2 separate regions of the Homo sapiens genome follow, and region 1 is linked to region 2. The links come from fine-mapping of genetic effects on gene expression. A gene starts in region 2. The other region holds a variant in brackets. All regions are shown on one strand. Distances are from middle to middle. Region 1 holds the start of LOC101927053 (a long non-coding RNA gene). Region 2 holds the start of FAM178B (family with sequence similarity 178 member B).

Region 1 (16,083 bases), 64 kb after region 2:
GTCTGGACCCATTCTTTTTTATCTTTCTACTCTCCCACTTATAAAAATGTCCTTAAGTAGTCTGACAGAAAAAAAGGCCCTGAGTACCTGAGTATGTAAGGTTCTCCCTGTTTGCTGACGTGGTCAGATTTTTTTTTTTTTTTTTTTTTTTTTTTTTTTTTTGGAGAGACGGAGTCTCGCTCTGTCACCCAGGCTGCTGGAGTGCTGGAGTGCAGTGGCTCTATGTCAGCTCATTACAACCTCCACCTCCCAAGTTCAAGCAATTATCCTGGGACTACAGGCTCATGCCGCCATGCTCGGCTACTTTCTTTTGTATTTTAGTAGAGATGAGGTTTCACCGTGTTGCCCAGGCTAGTCTCGAACTTCTTGAGCTCAGGCAATCTGCCTGCCTCAGTCTCTGAAAAGTGCTAGGATTACAGGTGTGGGCCACTGTGCCCGGCCGATGTGGTCAGACTTTATCATGAATGTTTGGTTAAATTGGGCAAGGGAAACTGGTCCCCATAGCGCACACTTGCTTAGGAGACACGCCCCAGGCTGTGGGAGGCAGGCGAGGTGTGCTCCCAGCAGGGATGGTGGACTAGGGATGCCCAAATGTTGCAGCAGCAAGAGTGCTGCAGAGGCTGCAGTGGGCTGAGTGTCAGCCTCGGTGCTTTGCAGCAAGAGAGTCTAAGGACGTGAGCCTGGTGTCCAGTGAGCCTTGTAGCTCGGGGCCTCTGGCACAGGACTCTTCGTGTCACTTGGCTGTGGGCAGCCGAGCACCCTGACTACTGCCTGATGTGGATGGCCAGATGGTCAGGGAGTGGTTGACCCAAGTGCAGCCATACCTTGAAGACCAGGTAAGAGAATATTCAAGAAAACATTGAAATTCACAAAGCCCCAGAAGTACTTGGAAACCACCAGTTGCTTCATTTCCCCAGATAACACCTGTGGTGTCAGAGAAGGCAAAAACTGGTTATCTTGGGCCAGGGGTCACGGCCAGCCCCTTCAGTGGGAGTGGTGCACCCTGCCCTCCGTTCCCCATTCTAACTCTCTGCTCCCTTTTGGCCTGACAGATGAAGACAAGCACCTGTGGTGCCCCTCACTGCAAGAAGTCAGGGAGGCATTCCACAGCCTGGGTGCCCACAGTCCTGCCCTGTACCCTCTGGGGCCCTTTTGGCACGGTGGCAGGTGAGTACTTCTGCTTCCTCACTGCCTTTTTCTTTCATATTTTTTAAGAGACAGGGTCTCTCTCTGTCACTCAGAACTGGAATACAGGGGTATAATCATAGCTCACTGCGGCCTCCACCTCCCAGGCTCAAGTGATCCTCCCACCTCAGCCTCCTGAGTAGCTGGGACTACAGGTACGCACCACCACGCCTGGCGAATTTTTTAATTTTTTGTAGAGGTGGCGGGGGGGGGTCTCCCTACGTTGTCCAGGCTAGTCTTGAACTCTTAGGCTCAAGCGATCCTTCTGCTTTGGCCTCCCAAAGTGCTGAGATTACAGGTATGAGCCACCCCATGCCCAGCCACCTGTTCTCTTGTTTGTTTGGAAGTTGCTGGACTCAGGCTGTATCCCATGTGTAGGGAATTACAGAACAACCACACACCCCCGCCTGAGGATCTGAGTATCACACCAGGAAGGAATTTCCTTGCTCCCAGCCTCAGGGAGATGGGAAGCCCCCAGGATGGATGAGCCTGTTTTTGGCACTTCCTGACTCAGCCCCCGCTGCCCCCACTCTCTGGTGAAACCCAGACTTCACAGCCTGGTTAGTATCCTTGCAGACACGTCCCAGTCCCTTGAGTCTCTTCAAGCCGCTTGTTTGGCCCGTTACCTAATATCCACTCAGGAACAGCAGGGCATGCTTTTATGTTCCCACAACCCTCAGTTTTGTGTCATGAGTGCCCCCGTTGAGCCCCGGGCTGACTTGCTCGTGGACAGTCATGATCATTTGCCTATGCCTGGTCCCTGCCTGTGGGGAGGAGTGCCACGTGATGCATAAATAGCTCTGGTGGGCGGATGGCGACTTAGCTTAAGGTCGTAAAAGTGTTATATATCGTCATCTTGTTCTACAAATTTTAGCACATCCAAACTCTCTTGAGAACCCTTGAAGAAGGTGATTTGAGATGGAACAGAGTGTTTTGAAGCCTGGAGGGGCTGTTGTATAGGACTTCCCCCCATGCTTCCCGCTGACAATCCGTCAGCGCCAGGAGGTGCCAGGCCCCCCTTCCCTCGCCTCGGCGGGCAGATGTTCCTCTGCATGGAAAGTGGGAGCTCTCCTAAGAACCTGTTCCACGACTGTGTTTAGCAATTGTCTGCCAAGCCAAACCACACTCAGCTCTGCTATAAATACCCCACACATGTGCCAGCCTGCCGTGCTCCTGCCCCTTTCCCTCCCGGAGCTCGCAGCTCCATGTCTGGTGTAATGAGCCACTTGCCTCCTCCTGGCACAGAGCTGCAATCGCACACCGTCTTGGATGAGCGGGGGAGAGAATTACACTCAGAAAGACAAATGAACGTCTGAGGCAGGCAGGGGCCGTGGAGTCCAGAAGAGCCACTTGTGACTGCTGTGATGAGTGTCCCTGTGTCCTCCTGGGAGTGGGAGGCGGCACTGGAGACATAGCCACTGGGTCTCGCTCTGCTCTGCAAAGAGCTGCTTCCCCCACTGCCTCCCGGTTCTCCCAGGATTTGACTGCGGCTTGCCCTTCATGCTGCGTGACAAATCCGTTGTCTCCAGAGGCAGAGTGGGCAGGAGAGATGAGAACTGTGGCCCTTTAAACACATCATCTCAAGTACTTTGGGACACAAACCCCGGCACGCAGACTTCAGCTTTCCCAGGCGCAGTTAAGCCTTGTGTGGGAGGAAAGCAGGGCTGTGTTGTCCTAGATCGGGCCCAGGGAGCTGCCAGGGCCTCATGTCGTGTCCCAGACACACCGTTTTAACATCTACCTCTTTTGGGCCCCAGACCTTGGCCTGGCGTTGACACCATTTCCCATCAGAGGATTCAGAACTACCCTCGAGGACCTGGCTGACAGCCGCAGGGCTGATTTCCCTGCTCCTGGCTCTGGGAGCAGGCTGGGGACCACCGGTCAAGCCCCTCAGGGCTGGGGAGGCTTTCCTGCCTGGAGCCCCTCCCCATGTCTTCCTCGGGGTAGGAGGATGGCGAAAATGCCTGGGTAGGTTTCCTGGGCTGCTGCGTTGTGTCATGGATTGGAGGGTGACCCCTCCGGAGTATTCGGGAAGCATCAAGGAGGTTCCAGCATCTCCTCCCCAAGGGTATGGCATCCTTCATGGATGCATGGGCCACAAGAGAAACCCCACGGCAGGCTATCTTCTCCCTGTGTTCCTTCTCGTCCTGGCTCCTCACCAACTCAGAGGCTGTCTTGTGCGAGCTGGCTCCGCCCAGGCATCTTTTTTCTGCTGACTTCCAGGGATGCCTCCATCCAGGGGAACGGATACCTCTGGGGCTTCTCCTGGGCTACCCACAGTGCCTCACAATGGCCAGGGCTCAAAATGAGGGCCTCAGACATCTGTGCATGTCCCCACCGTAACTGGGCTGTCTCTTTAGTTGCTCTGAGAAAGACAAGTCTTCCCACATTTCTTCCTAATCTCGGATTTCCTTAAAAGCCATCACCATCTCCCATCTAGCGCTTCCAGATTTCCTTTCAGAAAGATGCAGTCCTTCCGCAGCTGGGCCATGCAGATCTCCTGGCATCCAACTTGTTGGAAACAGTGGCCCTCTGCTCAATGATGAGACTGGGGAGGGGAAACAGGAGGACATTTCAAGGAAAGGATGGAGCGTGGATATGAATGGGAAGCGGGTGGTGGGGGAGCTCATCAGCATCCTCAGAGGGGCTCATGCCCACGCTGCAACACAGAATGGGACTTGCCAGGTGCCCCCATCTCCCCCAGGAGCACAAAGGAGGTCTTTAGGTAGCTGTGCATGGTCCTCCAAGGCTGTTCCTGCTACCAAGCCCAGCTGAAGTTAGAGCCCTGCTCTGATGCGCAGGCCTGGCCGCTGAAGACCAAAAGTCTGGAGCTGTTTCCTGGTGCCAGAAGCCTTGGCCACTTGGTTTTCTTTTCTTTTTTTTTTGAGACAGAGTTTCACTCTTGTTGCCCAGGCTGGAGTGCAGTGATGCCATCTCGGCTCACTGCAACCTCCGCCTCCGGGTTAAAGCGATTCTCCTGCCTCAGCCTCCTGAGTACCTGGGATTACAGGTGCGTACTACAATGCTTGCTAATTTTTGTATTTTTAGTAGAGATGGGGTTTCACCATGTTGGCCAGGCTGGTCTTGAACTTCTGACCTCAGGTGATCCACTCACCTCAGCCTCCCAAAGTGCTGGAATTACAGGCATGAGCCACCATGCCCCGCCAGCCACTTGGTTTTCAAAGGAGCAGCCTGGTGCAGAGACCAAAGGGGTAAATACATGACAATTAACACATTGACAGGGCGTCCTATCAAGTGAGGGGGCAATTGATTAAAGAGGCAGCTCTTGGTTAAGGTGGTAGTGGTGCTCATACACTGTACCTGCCATCTTCCCTCTGAGAATGTCAGAATGCCATGCAGATGGTAACTTTATTATTTTTTCAACTTTTGGGGGAAGAAGATGCGGAGACCTGGGTAGAGGCCAGTGACATGCCCCTTGTAAGGTTAATGAGTATTGAACGGTGTCTCCGAGACAGAAACCCAGTTCCTAGGTGCTGGCCACAGACCCTGGAGCCAGGCGTGGGACCAGTGAAGCTGCTTTGCTCATAAGAGTCCAATGGTGGGACCATCAGCTCACTCTAACCTGCTAAGCCCAGGAGGGGAGCAGGGATAATAGATAGGCCGTTGAATTCCCGGGCTGTGGCCCCTTGCTGGCAGCAGTGGTGGAGTTTCGGGGATCAGCTGATGCTGCAGCTCAGAACAGCAGCCACAGATGCCAGCAGTTTAGTCAAGTGATTCCTCTGAAAAGCGAGGATTAGAGGACCCCCATTATGTTGCCCATTAGTCCATGGGCTCACAAAGTTCTGGAACTCTGACCAGCCAGGCATTCACTTGGGAAGGCTGACATTTCTTTCCAAGGAGGACAGGGCTCTCCCCACAGCCACACTCCTCTCTGCAGCTCAAAAAACACATGTAACCACCTCACACCTTCAATGTTCCTTCTCCCCTTGGCAGCGTCTCTCTTCTGCAGATGTTTGTAGTCGACTCTGAGTGCCCCGTGCTGAGAAACCTGAAAGCACACCCACCTATGGCTGCGCGTGTTGCACGCTCAAGGCTGGTACGAACCAGAGCTTCCCCTCACGTACTGGCGCAGGCCCAGCCTGCGCCCAGATGTGCAAATGCCAGCCTTACCCATTCAGTTAGGGCCCTAATAAATGCTGAAATCTGGAAGAAGGACTGAGCCCAGCCACAGTTTCCACTCCCCCACCAAGTTTGGTTTGTCGGCACCAACTTCCTGGTACCTCGGAGACAGATCTCTCCTCCTTCCCCTCTGAGCCCAGCGCCAGTGCCAAGCAGAGAAGAGCAGAGACTTCACAGGAGCTGTAGGACAGTGCTCTTCCTCCCCTGTGCCAGGGGGCTGCCTGGAGCCTGCTGTCATCAGCAGTGTGGTTGTCATCAATATCTTCACTTACCACTGTTAGCAGGAACCTTAAGCCGTTTCTTAAGAGTGGAGAAGTGGGTGAGACAGCAGAGGGGACCCTCATCATAAGCTCACTTAACATACTTGAAATCAACAATGTACATTCGGCCATACGATGAAGGTGATCCCGCCCAGGCTCTCGTCCTGTGAGCGCGTGCCTGGGAGGGAGGCTTGTGGAAAGGGTGATGAGACTGCCATCCACAAAGCCCCACCGAGGTCCCCCTCACCGTAAGCATCTCACCACCCTGCGTGTGGCTTGATCTTTAAAGGGGGGGATTTTTCTTTCCCCAGCCCTGGTCTCTAACATCATCTGGTGCTCAGCCAGATTGGGTCCGTCACTCGGGGAAACTGGCCATGCAGGTCTTATCAGCAGACAGCACATCAGCTCAGGGTGACACCTTTGGAGGGGGTTTTCAGGGATGTTTTGTTCTGATTTCCCCCATACTTGCTGGCTTGTGAGCCAGCCCGTGTCAGCTACCACGTGGTGCACTTTGCAGTGTATGCAGGCTCACCCTTGTCGAACGGACCCAGGGAGAACTCACGGACTTTG[G/T]GGGGATTGGAAGTGTGATTTTCTGGTTTCCAAGTCCTGGAAAACTAAAGCTCGAGGCCTCACCTGAACGGTAGCATGTGGGAGCCAGTCCCCAAGGAGCCCCCCTCCATGTGTCCCCCATTCTTAGAGTTCACATAGTTCTGTAGCCTCCTCCTACACCAAGTCAGGTCGGCCCTGTGTGACCAGTAGAAGAGATGGGATGTCACTTTCGAGGTTAGGTTGTGGAAGGTTGTGGCTCTGTCTTGGGCATATTCTCTCTCCCTCTCTCTTTCACCACTGGCTTTGGAGAACCAGCGGCCATGTGGAGAAACTCTGTGGAGAGGCCCTGGGGCCTGTGGATCAGTGACCAGGTGAGTGAGCCGGGAGGCAGGCCCTCCAGCCTGTAGGCTCAGGTGACCGCAGCCCCACCCAACATCTTGAGGGCAACATCCGAGAGACCCCCGAGCCAGGACCACCCAACAGAGCTGCCCTGGATTCTTGGCCCTCAGAAACTCATGAGATCATCTGTGTGGAAGAATTTGCTGTGTCCAGCGGATGAGCAGCCTCAGGGCAGCAGTGTCCCACTTTGCGCCTCACTCCTGCCCCTGTGCCCCCTCCTGGGTTTCCCATCGTCACTGTTGTTGTCTTACCACAGGGTGCTTCCAGGCGAGGCTGGCCTGAATGAGAATGAGGAGCAGGACGCTCCCCAAGAGATTGCCTTGGACATCAGCCTGGGCCACATCTACAAGGTGAGTCAAGCCGCCTGCCTCATGCAGGGCACTCTCGGCTTACAGTTCAGACCCATTCAGCAGCTAAATTCCAGGAGCATCACGGAGAATCTCCGGCGAGCTCAGCACCATGGCAGGCACTGTGCTGGCTGTGGGCCGGATGCTACAGAAACTGTGTTATCGGACACGGGTCCTGATCTAGGCCCCAAGAGAGAGTTCTTGTACAAGAAAGAATTGGGGCCAGGCATGGTGGCTCATGCCTGTAATCCCAGCGCTTTGGGAGGCTGAGGCAGGTGGATCATTTGAGGTCAGGAGTTCCAGACCAGCCTGACCAACATGGTGAAACCCCATCTGTACTAAAAATACAAAAAAAAATCAGCCGGGCATGGTGGCGGACACCTGTAGTCCCATCTGCTCAGGAGGCTGAGACAGGAGAATTGCCTGACCCTGAGAGGCAGAGGTTGTAGTGAGCCGAGATGGCACCACTGCACTCCAGCCTGGGCGACAGAGCGAGACTCCATCTCAAAAAAACAAAAAGGCTGGATGCAGTGGCTCATGCCTGTAATGCCAGCACTTTGGGAGGCTGAGGCGGGTGGATCACCTGAGGTCAGGAGTTCGAGACCAGCCTGGCTAACATGGCAAAACCCCGTCTCTACACAAACTACAAAAATTAGCCAGGCGTGGAGGCTGAGGCAGGAGAATTGCTTGAAACTGGGAAGTGGAGGTTGCAGTGAGCTGAGATTGCACCATTGCACTCCAGCCTGGGCAACAAGAGAGAAACTCCATCTCAAAAATAAAAAGAATTGGAAGCAAATCCATAGAGTAAAATGAAAGCAAGTTTATTAAGAAAGTAAACGAATAGGCCAGGTATGGTGGCTCATGCCTGTAATCTTAGCACTTTGGGAGGCCAACGTGGGTGAATCACCTGCAGTTAGGAGTTCAAGATCAGCCTGGCCAACATGGTGAAACCCCGTCTCTACTAAACATACAATAATTAGTCGGGCGCGGTGGCGCGTGCCTGTAATCCCAGCTACTTGGGAAGCTGAGGCAGGAGAATTGCTGGAACCCGGGAGGCGGAGGTCGCAGTGAGCCAAGATGGCGCCACTGCACTCCAGCCTGGGTGACAGAGCAAGACTCTGTCTCAAAAAAAAGTAAAAGAATAAAGAATGGCTACTTCATAGGCAGAGCAGCCCCAAGGGCTGCTGGTGTAGTATTTTTATGGTTATTTCTTGATTATGTGCTAAGTAAGAGGTGGATTATGAGTTTTCTGGGAAAGGGGTGGGCAATTCCCAGAACTGAGGGTTCTTACCCTTTTTAGACCATATAGGGTAACTTCCTGACATTGCCACGGCATGTGTAAACTGTTATGGTACTGGTGGGAGTGTCTTTTAGCATGCTAATTCACTGTTATTAGCATATAATAAGCAGTGAGGCCGACCAGAGATCACTCTGGTCATCATCTTGGTTTTGGTGGTATCTGGCCAGCCTCTTTACTGCAACCTGTTTTATCAGCGGGGTCTTTGTGAGCTGTATCGTGCCAACCTCCTATCTCATCCTGTAAGAATACCTAACCTCCTGGGAATGCAGCCCAGTAGGTCTCAGCCTTGTTTTACCCAGCCCCTATTCAAGATGGAGTTGCTCTGGTTCAAACGCCTCTGACAAGCACACTCTCCACACCTGTGCCTGCCACCCAGGACCCTGCAGGGGCCTCACTGTTTCCTGAGCTCCTACCCAACATGGCCGCGGGGCTCACAGTACCATCCCTTCTGCCTAAGTGTCTCCCAGGGAACTGGTCCTCGAAGTACTCTCCCGTTCCCCCATGCCCTGGCCACCCCTGCCCTCTTTTCTCTCTCCAGTTTCTGGCGCTGTGTGCCCAGGCCCAGCCGGGGGCCTACACTGATGAGAACCTCATGGGACTGATTGAGCTGCTGTGCCGCACCAGCCTGGACGTGGGGCTCCGCCTGCTGCCCAAAGTTGACCTCCAGCAGCTTCTCCTCTTGCTCCTGGAGAACATCCGGGAGTGGCCAGGGAAGGTACTAGACGCCCAGAGCCTGGTCCTCATACAGCTTCATCACTAGGGACCAAGGTGGCCCCTAGAGTGCCCTGGGTGGGGATGGCACTGCCTGGAGGTCATCGGAATGTCCCTGATCTCCGTGACTGCCCACTTACTCCCCTGTGCGGGCTGGGTGGCGAGAGCAAGGGGAAGGCGGTGTCCTCCTGTAGCCCATGGGGTGCCGTTCTCCTGCAGCTCCAGGAACTGTGCTGCACCCTGAGCTGGGTGTCTGACCACCACCACAACCTGCTGGCCCTCGTGCAGTTCTTCCCAGACATGACCTCCCGGAGCAGGTGCGTGCTGCTCCCCCGCTGCCTCCTCCCTCTCACACGCATCTCTTCGGGGTCTTGTAGGGATCCAGAGTCCTCCCCATCAGCCCCAACAAACCTCCCCTGCCCAATTTCTAATCCCCAGGAGGGAGAACTAAAAATATAACTCACTAATGAGTTCTTTACAAATGAAAAAAAGCTTAATTTTCTTAACATGGTCTTATTAGCAAAACAATTGCCTTGTGCAATTAGCTCCTGCCTGCAGGGCCCCCACTCTCCTTTCTTTGGGGCTCCCTCCCCAGTCTTCAGCTCCTCCTCGTCATTCAGACCTCAGCTGAATTCTGTCCCCTGATCACCCGACTCCCACTCGCACACTCTCGATTCATCCTTCTGTTTTCTTTTCTGCCTAGCATTTACCCATGCCAGAAATTATGTTACTCTTTGTTTCCTTGTTTATGGCTGTGGCTTTCCTCGAAGTTACCTCTACCAGAACAGCTACCTTGTCAGGGTCACTGCCATATTGTCCCAGATCTAGAACAGTGCCTAGCGTGCTGTTCGGCGCTCTGTAAATTTTTTTTTTCTTCTTCTTGAGACAGAGTCTTGCTCTGTCACCCAGGCTGGAGTGCAGTGGTGCGATCTCGGCTCGCTGCAAGCTCCACCTTCTGGGTTCACGCCATACTCCTGCCTCAGCCTCCCGAGTAGCTGGGACTACAGGCGCCCGCCACCACACTTAGCTAATTTTTATATTTTTAGTGGAGACAGGGTTTCACCGTGTTAGCCAGGATGGTCTCAATCTCCTGACCTCGTGATGTGCCTGCCTCGGTCTCCCAAAGTGCTGAGATTACAGGCATGAGCCACCACGCCTGGCCTGTAAATTCTTTTCGAATGAATGAAGTGGGTAAACAAACTCAGCCCAGGAGGAGATAAGGCCCATTGGCTGAATCTGGCCCGGCTTCTCTCTCCACTTTCCTTCTCCCACTTTTGGCTACGGTCTTACAGGATTGCCTGCCCTTTCCGGAGCAGACCACTCCCATCCACTCGCCTTGCTCTTCTCTCTCCCTCTTCCCTTCTCTTTCTGGGCCTGTCCCTTTGCAGCTCCTCCTGCCTAGAATGACTCCTTTCCTACCCCTCAACTTTGGCAGACACCTCTGTGTTACCCTCCACTGGGACCCCTTCCCTTCCCCTGCACTGTTCCAAGGGTGGTCTCTGGGAGCCGGCTTGGAGTTTGAATCGCCTCACACCCCAGGGCCCAGCCTGGTAGAGGCTCTGCTTGTTGACTAAGTTACCTTCAGTTGTCCTGGGCTCCGCTTCAGTGCTGAGCAGGCAGTCCCATCTCTTTCTGTCTTTCCTGGGAATCTGGCTGGCAGAGAGGCAGCCTGTGCACAGTTGGGAGAGGGCAGGTTTCATCCTCTCTCTGAAAGAATGGGACTTCTGGAAGCTCTGTCAGAGGACTCCAGGGGCCTCAGTGAGGGAGGCTGCCTGCAGCCCAGCAGCCTGGTATTTCTTCATGGGATGGAGAGGCCGACCCTGCCTCCTGATTCCCTGTTCTCCCCAGACCGCCCATCCACTCTGCTTTGCCAGCTGGAAATTACAGTCCTAGAGGTTTCTGCCATCCCCACCTGTTACCCCTTTCGTCCCTAAATCCTGTCCTTTCTGCCTTCTGTATCCTAAATCCAACTCCGTGACAGCCAGGACCATGTCTGGCTCACGTAAATCAGTCACCTCCTTTCATCTCACCGGCTCACCTGGAGGGTGGCAGAGGCATTTCTTCCTCTTCTCCAAAGTCTGCCTGCTCTGTAGATGCCTGGGGGTTCCTGTGATGATCACGTCTCTGCCTTACCATGCTCCCCATTGCCTGCAGGGCCAGGTGCAAATTCTTAGGCTGGTCCCTAGGCCCCCTCATCCACCTCGTCCAGCCAGTTTCTCATTTGCTCCATCCAGGGCATGGTGTTTGTGGTTGTTTTTCTCACACATACACACAATAAACCTCACTCTTTTCACAGCTGCATAGTATTTCCCTAGTGTGTGTGCCACTGTAGTCTCCTAATGTAGCAGGGCGACCACAGTCCAGAACCCCTCAGACACCAAGTTGTGGAAGGAAAGGGCTTTATTCAGCTGGGAGCATTGACGGGCTCACGTCTCCAAAAACCGAGCTGCTTGAGTCAGCAATTCCTGTCGCTTTTAAGGGCTTACAACTCTAAGAGAGCCCGCGTGAGAGGGTCGTGATCGATTGAGCAAGCCGTGGGTACGTGACTGGGGGCTGCATGCACTGGTAATCAGAATGGAACAGAACAGGACAGGGTTTTTCACAGTGCTGTCCCGTGTAATGTCTGGAATCTATAGATAACATAAACCGGTTAAGTCAGGGGTCAGTCTGTAACTACCAGGCCTGGAACGCAGCACTGGGCTGTCTGACTACTGATTTCATTTCTTTCTTTTCTTTAACTCCTACTTTTTCTTTGAGGCAGAAATTGGGCATAAGATAACATGAGGGGTGGTGTCCTCCCTTACTAATACTGGACATTCTTCCAGTGACTGTTTAGTGTCTGTGCAGATATTTCTATGAGATAAATTCCTTGATGTGAAATTGCAACCCTAAAGTATGTAAAGCTGGACCTATTAGTAACACCACCAAATAGGTATGAAAGTGCATATTTTTCTGCATTCTCATTAATACTACATATTCCCAGTTTTGTTTTTGAGTTTTAGTCAATCTGGTGAGTGGAAAACATCATCCTGTGGTTCTAATTTTCATTTCCCTGATTGCCAGTGAAACTGAGTATCTTTTCATGTATTTATTGGCCTTTTGTGTTTCTCTTACTGTAAATTACCTTTTGGTATTTCTTACCCACTTTCCTATCAGTTAATTTATCTTCTTATCAACTCTGTTGATCTTCATGTTGCTTATTATGTTACAGTATGTTTTCTCCAAAGGTTATATAGATTGTCCTTTTTAAATCTTTATGTATGGTACCTTTCAGTGAACTGGAATTTTTTTTCTTTTTTTTTTTACTTTTTCAGTCCTTTTTTTTTTTATTTTAGAATAGATTTAGATTTACAGGACAGTTTTATGGATAATGCAGAGAATTGATTGGGATTTTTGTGTAATGTAATCTTTCCATGTGGAAGACGAAGGGTTTCCCCACCAAGACCATAAAGATAGTGTGCTTTCTTCTCTTTCAGGACTGGCTTTACTTTGTGTCCATCAGCTCTTAATCCCAACTCAAATCTGTTTGTCCTTGGTATGAGAGAAGGATCTAACTTGATTTTTTCCATCCCCAAACAGCCAGTGGGGACCCAACGTCAATTTTTCTGCCTTTTGTTTTGTTTTTTGAGAGAGGGTCTCACTCTGTCACCCAGGCTGGAGTGCAGTGGTACCATCATGGCTCACTGCAGCCTCGACCTCTTGGGATCAAGTAATCCTCCTGCCTCAACCTCCTTAGTAGCTAGGACTACAGACAGATGCCAACACACCCATCTAATTTTTAAATTTTTAGTAGAGACAAGGTCTCCCTATGTTGTGCAGGCCGATCTCAAATCCCTGGGCTGAAGTGATCTTCCCACTTCAGCCTCCCAAACTGCTGGGATCACGGGTGTGAGCCACCATGCCTCAGCTTTTTGGTCTTAATAATTCATCCTTTCAAGACAGATTTGAAGCTACCTTCTCCATATCCTAAGTTTATGACTTCACTCCTTCATCTGCTAGCCATGTTAAACTGTGATTTCATGAATCAGTGTCTTTTGTGGAATCTGTGGGTAGCTCCAGGGCCCATGGCAATTGCCCTTTAAATGCCAGGAAATGAATGAAACAGAGCATCTTGCGCCTGCCTTTCAGGCAGCCACGTCAGCAGGGTGATGCTTTGTGCCAAGAGCTTTACTAGGAAGGAGGGTGCCTTATCGGGATCAGTGTTATTGATTTTATTTTTCTAAATAGATAAAAGCATTCAAATAAAACAAAATTCGTAAGGTACCAAGGAGTACCTTTTTGAAAGTACTCCTTTCAAATTTGATGTTGAAAATGCGCTTCTTCCCCTGAGCCAGAGCCACCTGGCTGGCCGCCAGCCTCTGTCTGCGTGTGCACGTACCCGCCGTTTCCGCACCTTCTTTGCTCTTCAGGGTGTGTTCTGGCCGTCATCCCTGATTGGGTTGTAAAGGGCTCCTAATTCTTTTTTCCTGCCGCGTTGTACTCACTGTGGGTCTTCAGTGAGCTGCTGCTCCACTGTGCTTCCCGCGGCGGCCACAGAGCTTACTGGCTGCCTTCACTGGTGGCTGCCCCACTGGGCTCTGTGCCCAGACTGACCCCAGGAAGAAGGGCAGATTGGTGTACGAAGGGCTGTCACACTCTTTGTCTGCTCGACTGACTGGTTAAGCACAAAGCGAGAACTCCTGCTGACACTCATGCAGTACACCCGCAGCCCCTGCCTCAGCGTTCAAGACTTCATGGGATGCACTGCAAATGTAAGGAAGAGCTGGGCCTAACCATGAAAAATGAAAGTGAATACTAAGGCAGACCACCTGAAACAGAGCCAAGGGGAAGAGGAGGTTCTTGGAGGAACATCCACCTTGGGAGGTGGCGCCATTGGGGCAGCTCAGGCAGCTTTGGGAAGAGCAGCATGCCATCCCCACTTCTGTTCAGGGCTCCTGCAACTGCTTGCACTCTACTGAAAGCTGATGTCCCAGGCTCTGGGGATCCTCTTCCTTCACTGCCTGCGGCTATTCATTAAACATCCTGTGTGCGCTGCTTCAAAGCAGAAGGTCAGATGAAGCCAGCTCCCGCAGGCTGCCTGGTCAGATGGAGGAATGGACAAAGCCTGCGTAAAACGGCTCACGAAACCAGCCCTGACAATGACGTAGAGTTCCTTGCCTGGCAGACCAGAATCAATCCGAAAGGACAGTGCTGCCCAGTGTTGGCAGGATGTGAGGAAACAGGCATATGCTTCCCTGCTCATGAGATGCGGTCAGTAGTCCCTCTGGAGGCCAGTTTGGCAAAATCAAGCAAATGACTTTAAAATGTGCACACCCTTCAAAAAGCTAGATCGTTTTCTGGGGAACTAGATGGCAAAGATTCATTGACAAGGATGTTTGGCATAGCAATGTCATGATAGTGAAGAACTGGAAATTGCCTCAGTGCCCCACCATCGATTCAGTTCTGCCCGTGCTACGGAGTATTATATGGTACCTAAAAATGATGTCACAGGAAAATGGGAAAGTTAATGAAATACGCTGAGTGGAAAAAAGGCTTTGAAGCCATATGTAAAGTGTGATGCCAATTCTGTTTAGGGGAAAAGAAAGGCCATCTTTGGGTGTGAGGTTAATAGGAGTGTTTTTGGTTGCCTAGGGCTTATTTCCCCCTTTCTTTTTTTCTTTTTCTTTTTTTTTTTTTCCCACTCTGTCGCCCAGGCTGGAGTGCAATGGCACAGTCTCAGCTCACTGCAACCTCCGCCTCCCGTGTTTAAGCGATTCTCCTGCCTCAGCCTCCCAAGTGGCTGGGACTACAGGTGCGTGCCACCACACCCAGCTAATTTTTGTATTTTTAGTAGAGACGAGGTTTCTCCATGTTGGGCAGGCTGGTCTTGAACTCCTGACCTTGTGATCTGCCCGCCTCGCCCTCCCAAAGTGCTGGGATTATAGGCGTGAGCCACCGTGCCCATCCTCTTATTTCCCCTTTCTAAAGACCCTGTCGGCCTCCAAGCTCCTGCTCTTACCCCCACAGCCAGTTCTCACCAATTAGCCAGAATCACTTCTATTTAATAAGTTTTTAAAGTTTTGTTGGCTGGGTGCGGTGGCTCACACCTGTAATCCCAGCACTTTGGGAGGCCGAGGTGGGTGGATAACTTGAGGTCAGGAGTTCAAGACCAGCCTGGCCAACATGGTGAAACCCCGTCTCTACTAAAAATAGAAAAAAAAAAAAATTAGCTGGGCATGGTGGCATGCACCTGTAATCCCAGCTATTCAGGAGGCTGAGACAGGAGAATCATTTGAACCCGGGAGGCAGAGGTTGCAGTGAGCCGAGATTGTGCCATTGCACTCCAACCTAGGAGGCAGAGTGAGACTTCGTCTCAAAAAAAAAAAAAAATTTGGTTATAGATAATTTCAAGACATATACAAACGTTGAGAGGCTAGTAAAATGGACTCCATGTACCCATTTTCCATCTCAGCAAACACAGCCGTGGAGACTCCTCCTTCCCTCACCCATTGCCCCCCACCCCTGCCCCACATCATTGTGAATCAGAGCAAATGATTAGACTTATTTTATTCAGTACGTGTCTCTAAAAAGATAAGGTCTTGGTGGTTTGTTTGTTGTTGACAGAATCTCTTTCGCCGAGGCAGGAGTGCAGTGGTGCCATCCAGGCTCACTGCAGCTTCGACCTCCTGGGCTTAAGTGATCCTCCTGCCTCAGCCTCCCGAGTAGCTGGGACTACAGGCATGCACCATCCCACCTAGCTAACTTCTTTAAGTTTTTGTAGAGACAGGATCTCCCTGTGTTCCCCAGCCTGGTCTTAGACCCCTGGGCTCAAGTGATCCTCCCACCTTGGCTTCCCAAAGTGCTGAGATCACAGGCATGAGCCACAGTGCCCAGCCCTTGGTGGGTATTTTAAAACATAATTACAACATTATGATGACACCTAAAACACTGAACCATAAAAGAACTGTCATAAGCAATTGAGTCACTTCCCTGCTCCAGAATCTTCCAAGACTTTGCATCATCTTGGAAGGAAGCCTGGAGTCTTTAAGGTGGCCGCTAAGGCCCCTTTGCGGTGTGGCCCTGCCCTCTGCTCTTCTTCTCCCTGTCCCTGCGGTGCACTGGGCACTTGTGTCTTGATGCCCACCCTCCCTCATGCCCGCACGTTGGTAGGAGACTCCCCCCTTCTCATCATGGTGGTCTCTGCTCACATGTC
Region 2 (16,083 bases):
GCAGAGTTGTTCCCAATACACAGAGTGGTTCTCAATACACACATCTGCAGTGTCTCCACCATGGAAAGATCTGACTGTCGGACTGAGGTCGGTTAGATAGGGTGGTCGTGGCCTCCCTTAAAGGGGAACGAACTTGACCGATTGGCAACTGCGTAAACTTCATCAGGCTCCTGGTTAGAATATCCTGCAGCAAAGAGGATGGAGAGCAGAAGGGAAATCCCCAAATTCAAGCAAGCACAGAAACCCATGATTAGTGTCCTTGGGCTGACCTACGCTCATTTTAATGCTAAAAAACACACAGGCCAGACGCGGTGGCTCACACCTGTAATCCCAGCACTTTGGGAGGCCAAGGTGGACGGATCACGAGGTCAAGAGATTGAGACCATCCTAGCCAACATGGTGAAATCCCGTCTCTACTAAAAATACAAAAATTAGCCAGGCGTGGTGGCAGGCGCCTGTAGTCCCAGCTACTCGGGAGGCTGAGGCAGGAGAATTGATTGAATCCAGGAGGCAGAGATTGCAGTGAGCTGAGATCGTGCCACTGCACTCCGGCCTGGTGACAGAGCGAGACTCTGTCTCAAAAAAATAAATAAAAAACACACCCCGGGTGGAGAATTAAAATGCTAATGAGACGTGTGTACTAGCATGTACAGCAATAGCACATGCACACCGAGGGTACCCCACAACATGCTTAACAGCAATGCCCATTCGCACTCTTTTATGAATAATCATGTAAATTTCCCATATAGGGAAGCACCTCACTGCCAGACAACTCTGTCTCACTTCTAAGCAGCCCGCTCTGGCCCAGCCGTCCCAGTATACCTTCGCTTTGCAATAAACTTCTTTACCTACTTTTGCTTTGTACTTGCTCTCAAATTCTTTTGTGCAGCAGTCAAGAACCTGAATCGGCCCAATGACACTGTAAGTTGGCAACTGCAGCAGGACCTGGGTAAACTGAGTCAAGAGGTAAGAATGATCTCACCACCTCATGGCTACAGGTCTAATCTTCCTCCTCTCTTTATATCCTCCTTTTGGCCACCTGAGAATTCCCTTCAGCTAAGACTGTCATGCTCCATCCAACTGGTTTCCAGTTCACCTGTGGGTGACTCATGGAGATGGGAAAGTTAGACTCTCCCCAAGTAGCTTGTGGCTGTCTTAGTCCAGCCAGACAGCTGGCACATATGAAAGTGATGGGGAAAAAGCCCAGGCTGCATAATGCCAGGTGACCTTTCAATCCGTCTTCTGCTGCTGATGATAACTATTACTTTTGTTCTTTAATCCCTTACGGGTGGGGCGATGAATTTTATTCCTTAATCTCCCAATTGGTTTCTTGGGTGAATCCTGTCAAATGTCTTGTCTGTCAGGAACACATTAGATTGTATGAACATTCTTATCGTGACCAAGTAAAAGATCTCAAAACTGGGGATCTCAGCCTTTTTGTATCCCTAATCAGACAACTTTGTCAATGTTTTAAAGCAAAGATCAGGCAAATAGAAAATGGGCCTTTCTTTTCTTTCTTTCTTTCTTTTTTTTTTTTTTTTTTGAGACAGAATTTCACTCTTGTTGCCCAGGCTGGAGTGCAATGGTGCAATCTCGATTCACTGCAACCTCCGCCTCCTTGGTTCAAGCGATTCTCCTACCTCAGCCTCCCAAGTAGCTGGGATCACAGGCATGCGCCACCATGACTGGCTAATTTTGTATTTTTAGTAGAGACGGGATTTCTCCATGTTGGTCAGGCTGGTTTCAAACTCCTGACCTCAGGTGATCTGCCCAACTTGGCCTCCCAAAGTGTTGGGATTACAGGGATGAGCCACGCACCTCGCCGAAAACGGGCCTTTCAATCAATTGATGCTCCCCCAACCCTAGTAGGCTTGGCTGTTTTCCAGATCCTTAAGTTGCTCTTTTTTCCCCTGCTTCATTTTCCCTTCATACAGTTGCTCTTTAAGAGAGGAAAATGGGATGTAGAGAGATCATGGTACCATAGAAATGTCAGCTCTAGGGCTGCCCACCCAAGTCCTGGGCCTTTAATAAGAGAACATCAGATGTACAGAAAAGGCCAGAAGAGTCTAAGCCCAGGAAAAGACTCCCTCAGCTAAATGAGGAAAAGAAGTTTATCTGCCTCATTCCACATTGGTCACTCACCAATAACTGTAAAGACAGGGACTAGAAGTGGTACCTCTCCTTGTGGGAAAACTGGTAAAACCACTTTTGGGAAGACTGTCAGCTGGCCATCAAGGTACGCTTGACACCAGGGACAGCAGGGCCTGGGAAGCCCAAGCGAAAGTAAGGGGACGCCCAAGCTAAATTTTGTCTCTTCAGGCTTAGAGCCTTCTTCATTTTTTTTTTTTTTTGACATTAGGCTACTAATCAAGATGGGTAACTGATATGGTTTGGGTCTGTGTCCCCACCCAAATCTCATGTTGAATTGCAATTCCCAATGTTCAGGGAGGGACCTGGTGGGAGGTGATTGGATCATGGGGGCTATTTCCTCCTTGCTATTCTTATGATAGTGAGTTTTCACGAGATCTGATGGTTTAAAAGTGTGTGGCACTTCCCCCTTCACTCTCTTTCTCTCTCTCCTATCACCATGTGAAAATGTACTTGCTTCCCCTTCACCTTCTGCCATGACTGTAAGTTCTTGAGGCCTCCCCAGCCATGCCTCCTGTACAGCCTGTAGAACTGTGAGTCAATTAAACCTCTTTTCTTTATAAATTACCCAGTCTCAGGTAGTTTTTATAGCGGTATGAGAGCGGAACAATACAGTAACCAACCCTCTGCTCACTGCCCCCTCAGATGCATTCTCCAAAATTGGTCTTATTTTAAACTGAATGGACTAGAAAAAAAAGAGACTTCTCTTCTTTTGTAATACAGCATGGCCCCAAACAATACCATTTTATTTATTTATTTATTTATTTGAGACGGAGTCTCGCTCTGTCGCCCAGGCTAGAGTGCAGTGGCGCGATCTCCGCTCACTGCAAGCTCCACTTCCCGTGTTCACGCCATTCTCCTGCCTCAGCCTCCCAAGTAGCGGGACTACAGGTGCCCACCACCACACCCGGCTCATTTTTTGTATTTTTAGTAGAGACGGGGTTTCACTGTGTTAGCCAGGATGATCTCGATCTCCTGACCTCGTGATCCGCCCACCTCGGCCTCCCAAAGTGCTGGGATTACCGGTGTGAGCCACCGTGCCTGGCCCAACAATACCATTTTATAATTAAACCTTTTTATAAAAGGAAAGGAAGGTCAGAAATTCCCCAAGGGCCCAGGGCAACCTGACATTATTCCTCCCTCTAACCAAACGGTTTTACATTAAGACAAGTCTCTGCCAGACGCAGTGGCTCATGCCTGTAATCACTTTGGGACTTTGGGAGGCCAAGGTGGGAGGCTGTCTTGAGCTCAGGAGACCAGCCTGGGCAACATAGTGAGGCCTTATCTCTATTAAAAAAAAAAATTAAAACCCACAAGTGTCTTAGAGACCAGTGACAAATGTGTTATGCCCATGTTGTTCAGAAGGGTTCAAGGGAATCTGATGTAATTCATGACACTGTATTAGGAAGTATGCCTCCCACTAACAGCTCTCCTTCTTCAAATCTAGTCCAAGGATCATTCCTCAAACCTCTAGAGCCTCTACTCCTTCTAGTGGTCCTTCCTCACCAGACTTGCAGTCTTCTACTGCACCTCCTCCATATCAACCCATTCACCCAGCACTCCCAGAAGGGCCCAGTCGCGCTAGGACACCCACTCAAACCAGAAAACAGGCTACTCCCTCGTAGGGAATTAACTAACAAAGAGGCAGGGACCATTCGAGTTCACATTCTTTTCTCAATGTCAGACTTAGCCCAAAGACTAAGCAGTTACCAGTTGATGTTATGCACTGCAGGGGACACCAAAGAGGGAACTCTACAACAATAAAAAAAAAAAATGATAATTTAGCAAATGCAACTGCTCAACAGGCTGTGTCCCTTCCATTTGTAGCAGGGGCTCCCATCCCAGAAACTATGGCTCCTGAGCTAGTGCCTGCACACACACAAACTGAAAGGGAGTGGGCAACTGAACAGGGATAATACCAAGACCCTAATGATGGTGGACCCAAAATTCAAATTTTTTTTTTTGAGATGGAGTCTTGCTCTGTCGCCCAAGCTGGAATGCAGTGGCACGATCTCGGCTCACTTTAAGCTCCGCCTCCCGGGTTCACGCCATTCTCCTGCCTCAGACTCCCAAGTAGCTGGGACTACAGGCGCCCGCCACCACGCCTGGCTAATTTTTTTGTATTTTTAGTAGAGACAGGGTTTCACCGTGTTAGCCAGGATGGTCTCGATCTCGTGACCTCGTGATCTGCCCACCTCAGCCTCCCAAAGTGCTGGGATTACAGGCGTGAGCCACCGTGCCCGGCCCCAAAATTCAAAAATTTTAATACCTCAAGGTCATCAATGCAAATTAATCAAAGGGGGTTACAGACACCTAGGAAGGGGCTCTCTAACGCTTTGGTCACATGAACCCTTAAGGGAACAGGCTTAGCTACTACTGTAAAAGCACACACTACAGCGAGACCACTTTACTCTATCAATAACCCAGAAAGGAAAATAAGGCCACTTCCATTACTGATGCCAGTACAGAGGAGAGGAAGGTACCCAGGGGAAGACAGACAGTTAGACTTTCCCTAAGTTCCACCAGTATAAAGATTTAAGCACTTACTGATCTCTACAGATACTTTCATGGGATAGATTGAAGCCTACTCCACCAAAACAGAAAAGGCACAAGTGCCTCTTAAAAGAAATCATTCCCCGATTTGGGCTACCTATGTCACTCCAAAGCGACAATGGCCCCTCCTTTGTTTCCAAAATAACCCAGCAAGTGCTACCACTCTAGGAGTAAGTGATCATTTACATGCTTCCTGGAGACCTCCATCCTCAGGAAAGCTAGAAAAAGCTACTTGTAAAGAAAACTCTGGCGAAGCTCTGGCAAGAGACTTCTGAGTCCTTATTAAAGTGATTGCCTCTAGCGTTCCTCCAAGTAAGAGCGGCTCCCAAGACCAATCTGCAACCCAGCACCTTTGAAATATTATATGGTCCTTTTGAGTCTTCACAGGGGTGCCTTGTAAAGGCATTAGAAAAATATACCAATGTAGATGCTGTCTCTGAGGCAGGTCAAATTCTTCTGGGGACTCATTTTATTAGTCAATCTGCTCCAGATATTAAGAGAAAGTTACAAAAACTGGCTGTAAGTCCCCAGGCACCAATGAATGAGCTAATTAATGTAGCCTTTGAAGTCTTCTATAATGAGACAGAGTAGAAGAGGCTAAAAAGTGAAAGAGGGAAGAGGCAAGAGACATAAACCAGGCCTCCGATTATTGGCCCTTGCTATCAGAGAGAACAAGCCAGTCCAGACCAAGCCCCAATCTGGGGACACCTGCTACACTTAAAACCAGGACACTGGCCCCAAAACTGCCAGACCAAGGGACAAAATGCCCAAAAGTCCGCTCCACCTAGACCATATCCACAATGCAGAGATGCCAGTCACCGGAAGCAGGACTGCCCCCAACTCCGTAGGGAGACAGGGGCTTCCAATTCCTTGATGGCCCTGACTAAAGACTGAGGAGACCCAAGGCTAACACTGGCTGTCATTCAGTCCCCATTACCACAGAGGAATCCAGTGACCCTGCACGTGGCAGGTGTAGCTAATTTTCTATTACATACAGGGACCAGCCTGTCAGTCCTTACATTCTGCCGTCGACCCTAGTAGGCCAAATAGGCCAAACACTGCACTGCCACGGGAATTGATGAAAAACCCGGACCAGATACTTTACCCAACCTTTTTACCTTTTTTTTTTTTTTTTTTTGAGATGGAATCTCACTCTGTTGCCCAGGCTGGAGTGCAGTGGCACCATCTCGGCTCACTGCAAGCTCCGCCTCCTGGGTTCATGCCATTCTCCTGCCTCAGCCTCCTGAGTAGCTGGGACTACAGGCGCCCACCACCACGCCCGGCTAATTTTTTGTATTTTTAGTAGAGACGGGGTTTCATCATGTTGGCCAGGATGGTCTTGATCTCCTGACCTCGTGATCCGCCTGCCTCGGCCTCCCAAAGTGCTGGGATTACAGGCGTGAGCCACCGTGCCCAGCCACCCAACCTTTAATTTGCAGACTCAAGGACGTGAATGCCTAACTCCCTTGTTGCTACCCTCGTTGGGGGCTTCTTTAAAACCAATGAAACCAACTGAACCCCTTCTCATAGGAGCACTCTCAAAAGCCCAGCTGACCACCATAACACACCATAGTCCAGAGAATCCAGGACATTGCCAGCTGGGTGCATCTCTCTAGGATAAAAACTGTTTCCCTTACGTTTCCACAGGACTCTACATCAACAACTAAAAATTAAAAATCCTTTTGTAAGCCTATAGAAGACCTAACATTCATTTTCAAGAAAAGATGCCAACACCCCAAATAAAGAGATTAATATTACTTTAACATAAGGTAGTCCCATCTCAGGTCTCCTATTTGTAGGAGCTCTTTTTGTTCTTCTGCTTGCTGAATAATGATGTGATGCTTCATTCTGCTACCTTTCATGGGACCTACAATAGCCATCTTATTACTACTGACCTTTGGTCCTTGCTTGTTTAAGCTCCTTTAAAGTCTGTGTCTTCTAGGTTACAACAATTCCTAGATTGATAGTTATGCAAGGATTTCAACTTATCCCAGTGGAGGATATGACCCCTATCACTTTAAATCAGGCAAGAAGAGACTTTCGGGCCCTGGTCCTGTCTCAGCACGAAGCAGCTCCAGAAAAAATGACCCAGCCCTCCACATTTCATAAGAACATGGACCCAAAGTCTCTGAGGGGGAAAATGAGGTCGGTTAGATACAGTGGTCATAGCCTCCTTTAAAGGGGAATGAACTTGCCAGATTGATGTAGAGAACAAACCGCCCACTGGTGCATAAACTGCATCAGGCTCCTAGTTAGAACATCCTGCAGCGAAGAGGATGAACAGCAGAAGGGAAAATCCCCAAATTCACACAAGTGCAGAAACCCATGATTAGAGTGTCCTTGGAATGACCTATGCTCATTTTAATGCTAAAAAACACACCCCTGGGTGAGGAATTAAAATGCTAATGAGACATGTGATGTGGTGTACTAGCACGCACATGCACATCTGGGAGACCCCGTAACATGCTTAACAGTAATGCCCATTCCCGCTCCTTTATGAATAATTATGTAAATCTCCCATAAAGGGAAGCTCATCACTGCCAAACAGACACAGCTATCTCACACGTGTGTGTGTGTGTGTGTGTGTGTTAGAGATGGGGGCTTGCTCTTTCGCCAGGCTGGAGTACAGTGCCACGATCTCGGCTCACTGCAACCTCTGCCTACGCCTCCCAGGCTCAAGTGATCCTCTCACCTCAGCCTCTGAAGTAGTTGGGGCTACAGGCACTGCACCACTATGCCCGGCTTTTTTTTTTTTTTTTTTTTTTTTTTTTTTTTTTTTTTTTTTTTTTTTTTGAGACGGCGTCTTGCTCTGCTGCCCAGGCTGGAGTGCGGTGGCGCGATCTCGGCTCATTGCAACCTCCACCTCCCTGGTTCAAGCAATTCCCCTGCCTCAGCCTCCCGCGCAACTGGGATTACAGGCGCACGCCAGCCACCAAGCCCGGTTAATGTTTTTTAATTTTTAGTAGAGACAGGGCTTCACCATGTTGGCCAGACTGGTCTGGAACTCCTGACCTCAGGCAATTCGCCCGCCTCGGCCTCCCAAAGTGCTGGGATTACAGGCGTGAGCCACCGCGCCCTGCCCACGCCAGGCTAATTTTTGTATTTTTAGTAGAGACGGGGTTTCGCCATGTCGCCCAGGCAGGTCTCTCACTCCTGGGCTCAAGCAATCGTCCCGTCTCAGCCTCCCAAAGTGCTGGGATTATAGGCATGAGACACCGCGCCAGGCCACTGTCTCACTGTCTTGGTAAATGCAAGCTACTACAAGTGCGCGTGACCCAGGACTGCCTGGGGGCAGGAGCTTCCGCCAGCCAATTCCCGCGCACGTGGATGCGCACGTGGAGGGCGAGCAGGAAGAGGGCGCGCACGTGGAGGGCTAACAGGAAGAGGGTGCGCACTTGGCCGGCGAGCTCCCCAGCTGGCGGCGGCGGCGGCTGTGAGCTGGCCGCTTGGTTTGGAGTCGGAACTCAATCCCCAGAACTGGATCTTTAGGTTCCACGTTGGCGGCCCTGGATCTAGGGACGCAACTCTTGGGGTCCTCCCACTGCGCCGCCTGGGGAGCCTGCTCCTGCTTCCTTTCCCGGCTAGCTGGCCCCGTCCTCTGAGGCCGTGCGAATTCCCGCCACCCTCCCTCACCCCGGAGCCCTGCCCTTCCCGCCCTATGTGGCCAAGGCTTCCAGGTGCGGGCCTCGCTCCACAACTCAGGAGGCAGGATCAGCGGCTCCATTTTACAGGTAAGGAAACTGAGGCCGAGGAACCGCAGGGGCGCGTGGTTAGCGCTCAGAGAGCACTCGACTTCCCTGGGACTCCTGGCTGGTCCAGGCCTTGCAGGTCAGCCCCGGTGCGGCCGCCGGGCTACTCTGGCGCTTTTCAGGTTCCTGCGACCCCGCGTGGTTCGGGTTCCGACGTGAGCCGGGCCCTCCTCTCCACAGGCCACTGCGCGGCCGGCCTTGGTGGGGTGGAACCTTAGATTGGTTTGAGAACTGGTTTATGTTTTGGTTGATGTGGCATGTTTTGTTTTGATTTTTAATGTTCCCCAGGGTGCAAAGGGTAGCTGGTGTTTTCTTTCCAGAAAGGCTTTCTATTCCCAGCCCCTGCCCGGTTTGATGGATGTGGAGTTTATGATGCTGGAGACCGTTTTCTTTGTGGGTAGAACGCATCTCCTTTCATCTTTCAAATTGTGAGCTCAGTCCTTGCTGACAGGAGCCGCTGCTCTCGCCAGCATTCCCAAGCTATTAAATATTTGTTTAAAAGGATGGATATAAAACATGATGTTAGGAATAAGGCGTCTTGAAAAAGCAGTATTCGCAGAAACAGCACCATTGTAATATTCTGAATTCATCTTGGCTCTTTTGACATCAGGGCCCAAAGCACTTGGGATTCCGTAATTATTTGGCCTCATGCTACACTTTAAGACAGATTATTTTATTTTTCTTGTAGTCAGGAAAGTAAAAGAACAAAAAAACTGAGATGACATGTTGAAATCTCACTGCGAGGACGCGAGGGAGGATGAGGGAAGCGGGGAGGGCGGCTGAACGCTAAAGGCTGGGGCTGGGGTTTGCAGGATTCGGGGAGACAAGAGCCCAGGCAGAGGGATGTGCTGGGCAGAGGGGGCGCCATCCATGGGCTGCATTGTAGAGTGAGCATGGCCAAGTCAAGGAGCTGAACAAGACGACTTCAGTCCTGAACCTGGAAAGAATGTGAGATGGAGGAGAAACAGGTCCTGGCTGGCGGGTATTGGGCCCCAGGAGGGAAAGAGATAACAAAGTTAAGTTTGGAGACTAACGCTGTCTCCTGTTTGACTGGGGGGCCTTCATATCCCCTCCCACGCTGTCAGGACACGTACTGTAGGCACTGGAGCAGGTCACACCAACTAGAATGATCGGTTTCCATCCATTCCGGGATGCATTTTTGTTCACATTTTAGCAGCTCTGAAGTTGGGCTGGGTCCCACAGTTTGTGTCTTTCTTTGTGTCATCGTTCACTTGGCAGCTTTTTGTCGGTCTTAGTGGCACAGAAAGTCACAGTGCCTTAAACCCAGCAGCATCTTAGCTGTGATGAAGGAGTCAGCCATGGCCTGAGTCCAGTAACTGCAGGATCCAGAGTTGGAGACGCAGGCAGAGAAGATGACCCACCTCAGCCTGCACCCTTTTGTTGTTTATGTCTTTGTCTTTGAAAGTGCTTGTTTCAAGGCATGTGAGGGAGGGGATTGGCAAAAGCAAAAACCTGGAAACAACAGATAGACAAATGAAAAATGTGTTACTTTGTGGTTGGGAGAGGGAAGAAACAGCTGGTAGCTGCATCTCCCTTCCAGGTAAAATTGGAATGCCATATAATCACTGGTAGATAGCACCTTTGAGTGAAAGGCATTTTGCAGCAGCTAGAGTCAGCTGCCCACTGAGCAGGCAGCCCTGGCCCAAGAGCCTCATAAGCAGCCAGCCAGTCTGAATACGCTGATTGGGCCAGTGAGCCCCAGGCTTCATCATCTGCTTGAGTCTTGGTGAGCCCTGGGTCTGTCCTATGACAGAAACTTCCTGCTGCTGTAAGCTCCTCTAGGGCAGAGACTGCATCTTCCTCATCCTTGAGGTCCCAATGCTCAGCATACTGCCTGACACATAGAAGATGCTAAATTGGGGTTTGTTGAGCGGGAACTGTATTGAACAGGTTGGGCAAATTGTCTTCCTGGTGGCGGAGTGAAAGTTTTTATGTACCACTTTGGCAGGGCACAGTGGCTCACACCCGTAATCCCAGCACTTTGGGAGGCTGAAGCGGCAGATCACAAGGTCAGGAGATCGAGACCAGCCTGGCCAACATGGTGAAACCCCATCACTACTAAAAATTAGCTGGGTGTGGTGGCACCTACCTGTAATCTCAGCTTCTCAGGAGGCTGAGGCAGGAGAATCGCTTGAACCCGGGAGGCGGAGGTTGCAGTGAACCGAGATTGTGCCATTACACTCCAGCCTGGGCAATAAGCGAAACTGTCTTGGAAAAAAAAATTCATAGCAGATTTATTCATAATACCTTGAAACAAGAAATAACTCAAATGCTCATCAACAGCGGAATGGATAAATAAGTAGTAGTTATTCATATGATGAAATATTGTATAGTAATAAAGATTACTGAACTGCTGCATGAACTACTGCTACAGGCATATAGCATGCAACAACATACATTTAGCAGTAGTTCGTGGATGATTTTCACATGCATAATGTTGAATAAAATATATGCAGAAGTGCACAAAATTGATGATTTGGCTGGATGCAGTGGCTCACGCCTGTAATCCCAGCGCTTTGTTAGCTGAGGTGACCAGATCACCTGAGCCTAGGAGTTTGAGACCAGCCTGGGCAACACAATGAAACTGTTTCTACAGAAAAATATAAAAATTAGCTGGGCATGGTGGCACATACCTGTAGTCCTAGCTACTCAGAAGGCTGAAGCAGGAGGATTGTTTGATCCCAGGAGGTTGAGGCTGCAGTGAGCTGTTATCACACCATCCGAGTCTGGGCAGCAGAGCGAGACTATGTCTCAAAAATATATATATATGATTTTATGTATGTGAAGTTCAAGAACAGGCAAAATAATCGGTGGTGATAGAGGCAGAGTAGTATAACCTTTGGGGTTATTGACTGGAGGAGGTACTTCTAGAATGTAAGAAATATTCAATATGTTGATCTGGTAATGGTTACCATATGTATGTATATGTGTATATATATGCACACACAGACACACATTTATACTAAATGTACACATATGTACATAAAAATCAATCATGCTGAACACTTAAGATTTGTGCATTTAGAGCCAGGCATGGTGGCTCATGGAATCCCAGCACTTTGGGAGGCTGAGGCAGGAGGATTGTTTGATCCCAGGAGTTCAAGGCTGACCTGGTCAAGGTAGCAAGAACCCTGTCTCTACAAAAATATTTTAAAATTAGCCAGGCATGGTGGTGTGTGCCTGCAGTCCTAGCTACTCGGGAGGCTGAGGCAGGCGGATTGCTTCGGCTCAAGAGCTGAAGGTGGCAGGAAGCTATGATGATGACAGTACACTCCAGTCTATGTGACAGAGAGAGACTATATCTCTAAAATAAAATAAATTAGACTGGGTGCAGTGGCTCACGCCTGTAATCCCAGCACTTTGGGAAGCCAAGGCAGGAGGATTGCTTGAGCCCAGGAGTTCAAGACCATCCTGGGCAACATAGCAAGAACCCTGTCTCTACAAAAAAAAAAAAAAAAAAAAAAAATTAGCTGGGCATGGTGGTGTGAACCTGCACTCCTAGCTACTCAGGAGGTTGAGGCAGGAGGGTTGCTTGGGCCCAGGAGTTCAAGGTTGCAGAGAGCTGTGATCATGACATTGCACTCCAGTCTACATGACAGAGACAGACTCTGTCTCTAACAAAAATAAATAAATAAATTAGGCCAGGTGCGGTGGCTCATGCCTGTAATCCCAGCACTGTGGGAGACTGAGGCGGGTGGATTGCTTGAGCTCAGGAGTTCGAGACCAGCCTGGGTAATATGGTGAAACTCCATCTCTACAAAAAATACAAAAATTAACCAGGCATGGTGGTGCACGCCTGTCGTCCCAGCTACTCGGGAAGCTGAGGTGGGAGGATGACTTGACGCTGGGAGGCAGAAGTTGCAGAGCCAAGATTGCACCGTTATACTCCAGCCTGGGTGACACAGCCAGACCCTGTCTCTAAAATAAAATAATAATATATATAAAGTATGTACATATACTATATGAATATATATATTTATGTACTGTAAGTTATACATCAATTAAAAAGTGAAGAATGTTTCTTGTGTGGGTTATGGATCCAAGTGTGAAATACAAAATAATAAAAATTCTCAAAGCTGGCATATGAAAATATGTTCATGACTTTGGAATAAACGAAGATTTTTTCTTTTTTTTTGAGACAGGGTCTTACTTTGTCACCCAGGCTGGAGTGCAGTAGTGCGATCACAGCTCACTGCAACCTTGACCTCCTGGACTCAGATGATCCTCCCACTCAGCCTCCCAAGTAGCTGGTACTGCAGGTGCACACCACCATGCCCAGCTAATTTTTGCGTTTTTTTGTAGAGACAGGGTTTCACTGTGTTGCCTGGGCTGGTCTCAAACTCTTGGACTCAAGCGATCTGCCTTTCTCAGCCTCCCAAAGTGCTGGGATTACAGGTGTGAGCCCCTGTGCCCAGCCTAGAGGACAGTTTCTTTCTTTCTTTTTTTTTTTTTTTTTTTTTTGAGACGGAGTCTCACTCTGTCACCCAGGCTATAGTGCAGTGGCGCCATCTCGGCTCACTGCAAGCTCCGCCTCCCAGGTTCACGCCATTCTCCTGCCTCAGCCTCCCGAGTAGCTGGGACTACAGGCATCCACCACCACGCCTGGCTGATTTTTAGTAGAGATGGGGTTTCACGTGTTGGCCAGGGTGACCTCGATCTCCTCACCTCGTGATCTGCCTGCCTTGGCCTCCCAAAGAGGACAGTTTCTTAAACAGGATACAGAAAGCACCAACTGCAGAAGAAAATGTTGATAAATTGGGCTACATTAAAGTTAAGGACTTTTCTTTATCGAAATATACCATTAATAGAGTGAAATGATCCTTTGTGGTTCATAAGCATGATGATTGAGTGTTCACGTGCATGTGTGAGATGTGCCACCCTGAGACCTCGTTACGAAGTCAACGTATTACCCATTTGAGATTACCAAAAAAGAGTGAGTTGGGCGCGGTGGCTCACACCTGTAATCCTAGCACTTTGGGAGGCTGAGGTGGGTGGATCCCTTGAGGCCAGGAGTTCGAGACTAGCCCAGACAACATGGTGAAACCCCATCTCTACTAAAAATACAAAAATTAACTGGGCATGGTGGCGGGTGCCTGTAATCCCAGCTACTTGGGAGGCTGAGGCAGGAGAATCACTTGGACCCGGGAGGTTGCAGTGAGCTGAGATCGCACCACTGCACTCCCACCTGGGTGACAGAGTAAGACTCCGTCTCAAAGAAAAAAAATAAATAGAATGAAAGAGAAGCCATTCAGTGGAATAAAATATTTGCAGCGCATATAACTGATCAAAGACTCATTTCAAGACTGTGTAAAGAATACTTCACAGATCTAAAATGGGCAATAGACTTGAATTGGCACTTTACAAAAGAAGATGTCTATAGGTACCCACAAAAATTTAAAATGTAAAAATTGAAAAAAAAAGATATCTAGGTCAGGACTCCATATGAAAAGGTGCTCAACCTCATTAGAACCAGGGAAACCCAAATTAAAAAATGCAAGGAGGCTGGCTCGGTTGCTCATGCCTGTAGTTCCAGCACTTTCGGAGGCCAGGGTGGGAGGATCACTTGAGCCCAGAAGTTTGAGACCAACCTGGGCAACATAGAAAGACCTCCACCTCTACAAAAAATAAAAAATTGCCTGGGCATTATGGCATGAATCTGTAGTTGTAGCTACACAAGAGGCTAAGTTAAGGCAGGAGGATTGCTTGAGGCCAAGAGTTCTAGGCTGCAGTGAGCTATGATCACACCACTGCACTCCAGCCTGGGTGACAGAGCAAGACCTCATCTCCAAAATTCTTTTTAAAATTAAATTTTAAATTACATAAGGAGACCGGACACAGTGGCTCACACCTGTAATCCCAGCACTTTGGGAGGCCGAGGTGGGAGGATCACTTGAGCTCAGGAGTTCTAAACCAGCCTGGGCAACATGGTGAAACCCTGTCTCTACTCAAAATACAAAAATTAGCTGGGTGTGGTGGTGCATGCCTGTAATCCCAGCTACTTGGGAAGCTGAGGCATGAGAATTGCTTAAAACGGGGAGGCGGAGGTTGCAGTGAGCCAAGATTGCGCACTACTGCACTCCAGCCTGGGTGACAGAGAGAGACTCTGTCTCAAAAAAACAAACAAAAAAACCCCACAAAGAAACACCATTACACGCTGACTAGAATGGCAAACATTTAAGATACCAGCAATCTCAAGTATTGACAAGGATGGAACAGGAGAATTCTGACATGTGGCTAGTAGGAGGATAAAACTTTAAAACTGTTTAGCCCTATCTACTATAATGGACATACCTATTCCCTGTGACCCATCAATATGATATGTAGGTACATTCTCAACAGAAATGTGACTCAGTGCAATCCCGACTCACGTCAGTCAGAATGGCTGTTACTCAAAAGTCAAAAAATAGCAAATGTTGGTGAGGATGCAGAGAAAAGGGAACACTTATACACAGTTGGTGGGAATGTAAATTAGTCAAACCTTTATGTGAAACAGTATGGAGATTTCTCAAAGAACTAAAAACAGAACTACCATTCAACCCACCAATCCCACTACTGGGTATCTTCCTGAAGGAAGATAAATTGTTATATCAAAACGACACTTGCACTCATATGTTTATCACAGCACTAGTCACAATAGCAAAGTTATGGAATCAACCTAAGTGTCCATCAACAGATGATTGGATAAAGAAAATGTGATATAGGATGGGTGCAGTGGCTCATGCCTGTAATTCCAGCACTTTGGAAGGCTAAGGCGGGCAGATTACTTGAGGTCAGGAGTTTGAGACCAGCTTGGCCAACATGATGAAACCCCGTCTCTACTAATAAAGTACAAAAATTGAGGTTGCAGTGAGTGAAGATCGTACCACTGCACTCCAGCCTGGATGACAGAGTGCGACTCTGTCTCAGGAAAAAAAAAAAAAAAAAAATGCCTGGGCGCAGTGGCTCACGCCTGTAATCCCAGCACTTTGGGAGGCTGAGGCAGGCAGATCACGAGGTCAGGAGATGGAGACCATCCTGGCCAACGTGGTGAAACCCCATCTCTACTAAAATACAAAAAATTAGCCAGGCATGGTGGTGTGTGTCTGTAGTCCCAGCTACTCAGGAGGCTGAGGCAGGGGAATTGCTTAAACCTGGGAGGTGGAGGTTGCAGTGAGCTGAGATCACACCACTGCACTCCAGCCTGGCAACAGAGCAAGACTCTGTTTCAAAAAAAAAAAAAAAAAAAAAGTGATACATACACCATAGAATACTATGCAGCCATAAAAAAGAATGAAATCGGCCGGGTGCAGTGGCTCACACCTGTAATCCCAGCACTTTGAGAGGCCGAGGCGGGCGGATCACGAGGTCAGGAGATGGAGACCATCCTGGCTAACATGGTGAAACCCCGTCCCTGCTAAAAATACGAAAAAATTAGCCGGGCGTGGTGGCGGGCGCCTGTAATTCCAGCTACTCGGGAGGCTGAGGTAGGAGAATGGCGTGAACCTGGGAGGCAGAGCTTGCAGTGAGCCAAGATGACGCCGCTGCACTCCAGCCTGGTGACAAAGTGAGACTCCGTCTCAAAAAAAAAAAAAAAGAAGAAATCATATCTCTTGTAGCAACAAGGATGGAGCTG

What was found.
Region 1: its variant is fine-mapped to the expression of FAM178B in whole blood (TOPMed, PIP 0.99).

Annotation. Positions count from the first base shown.
Region 1 is chr2:96,914,290-96,930,372 of GRCh38, reverse strand. FAM178B (family with sequence similarity 178 member B) reads left to right here. Exons shown (of 17, transcript NM_001122646.3): 9 at 1,053-1,167; 10 at 6,790-6,883; 11 at 8,719-8,895; 12 at 9,111-9,208. It overlaps LOC101927053 (a long non-coding RNA gene), which reads right to left and starts at 11,267. Exons shown (of 3, transcript NR_110209.1): 1 at 10,930-11,267; 2 at 10,471-10,598; 3 at 4,536-6,329. RefSeq lists an enhancer at 2,668-3,381. The variant G/T (reference allele first, on the strand shown) is at 6,156.
Region 2 is chr2:96,978,590-96,994,672 of GRCh38, reverse strand. FAM178B (family with sequence similarity 178 member B) reads left to right here and starts at 8,093. Exons shown (of 17, transcript NM_001122646.3): 1 at 8,093-8,432. The coding sequence starts at 8,360. LOC124906158 (small nucleolar RNA U13) reads left to right here and starts at 13,289; the gene lies at 13,289-13,391. RefSeq lists enhancers at 8,015-8,535, 8,536-9,056.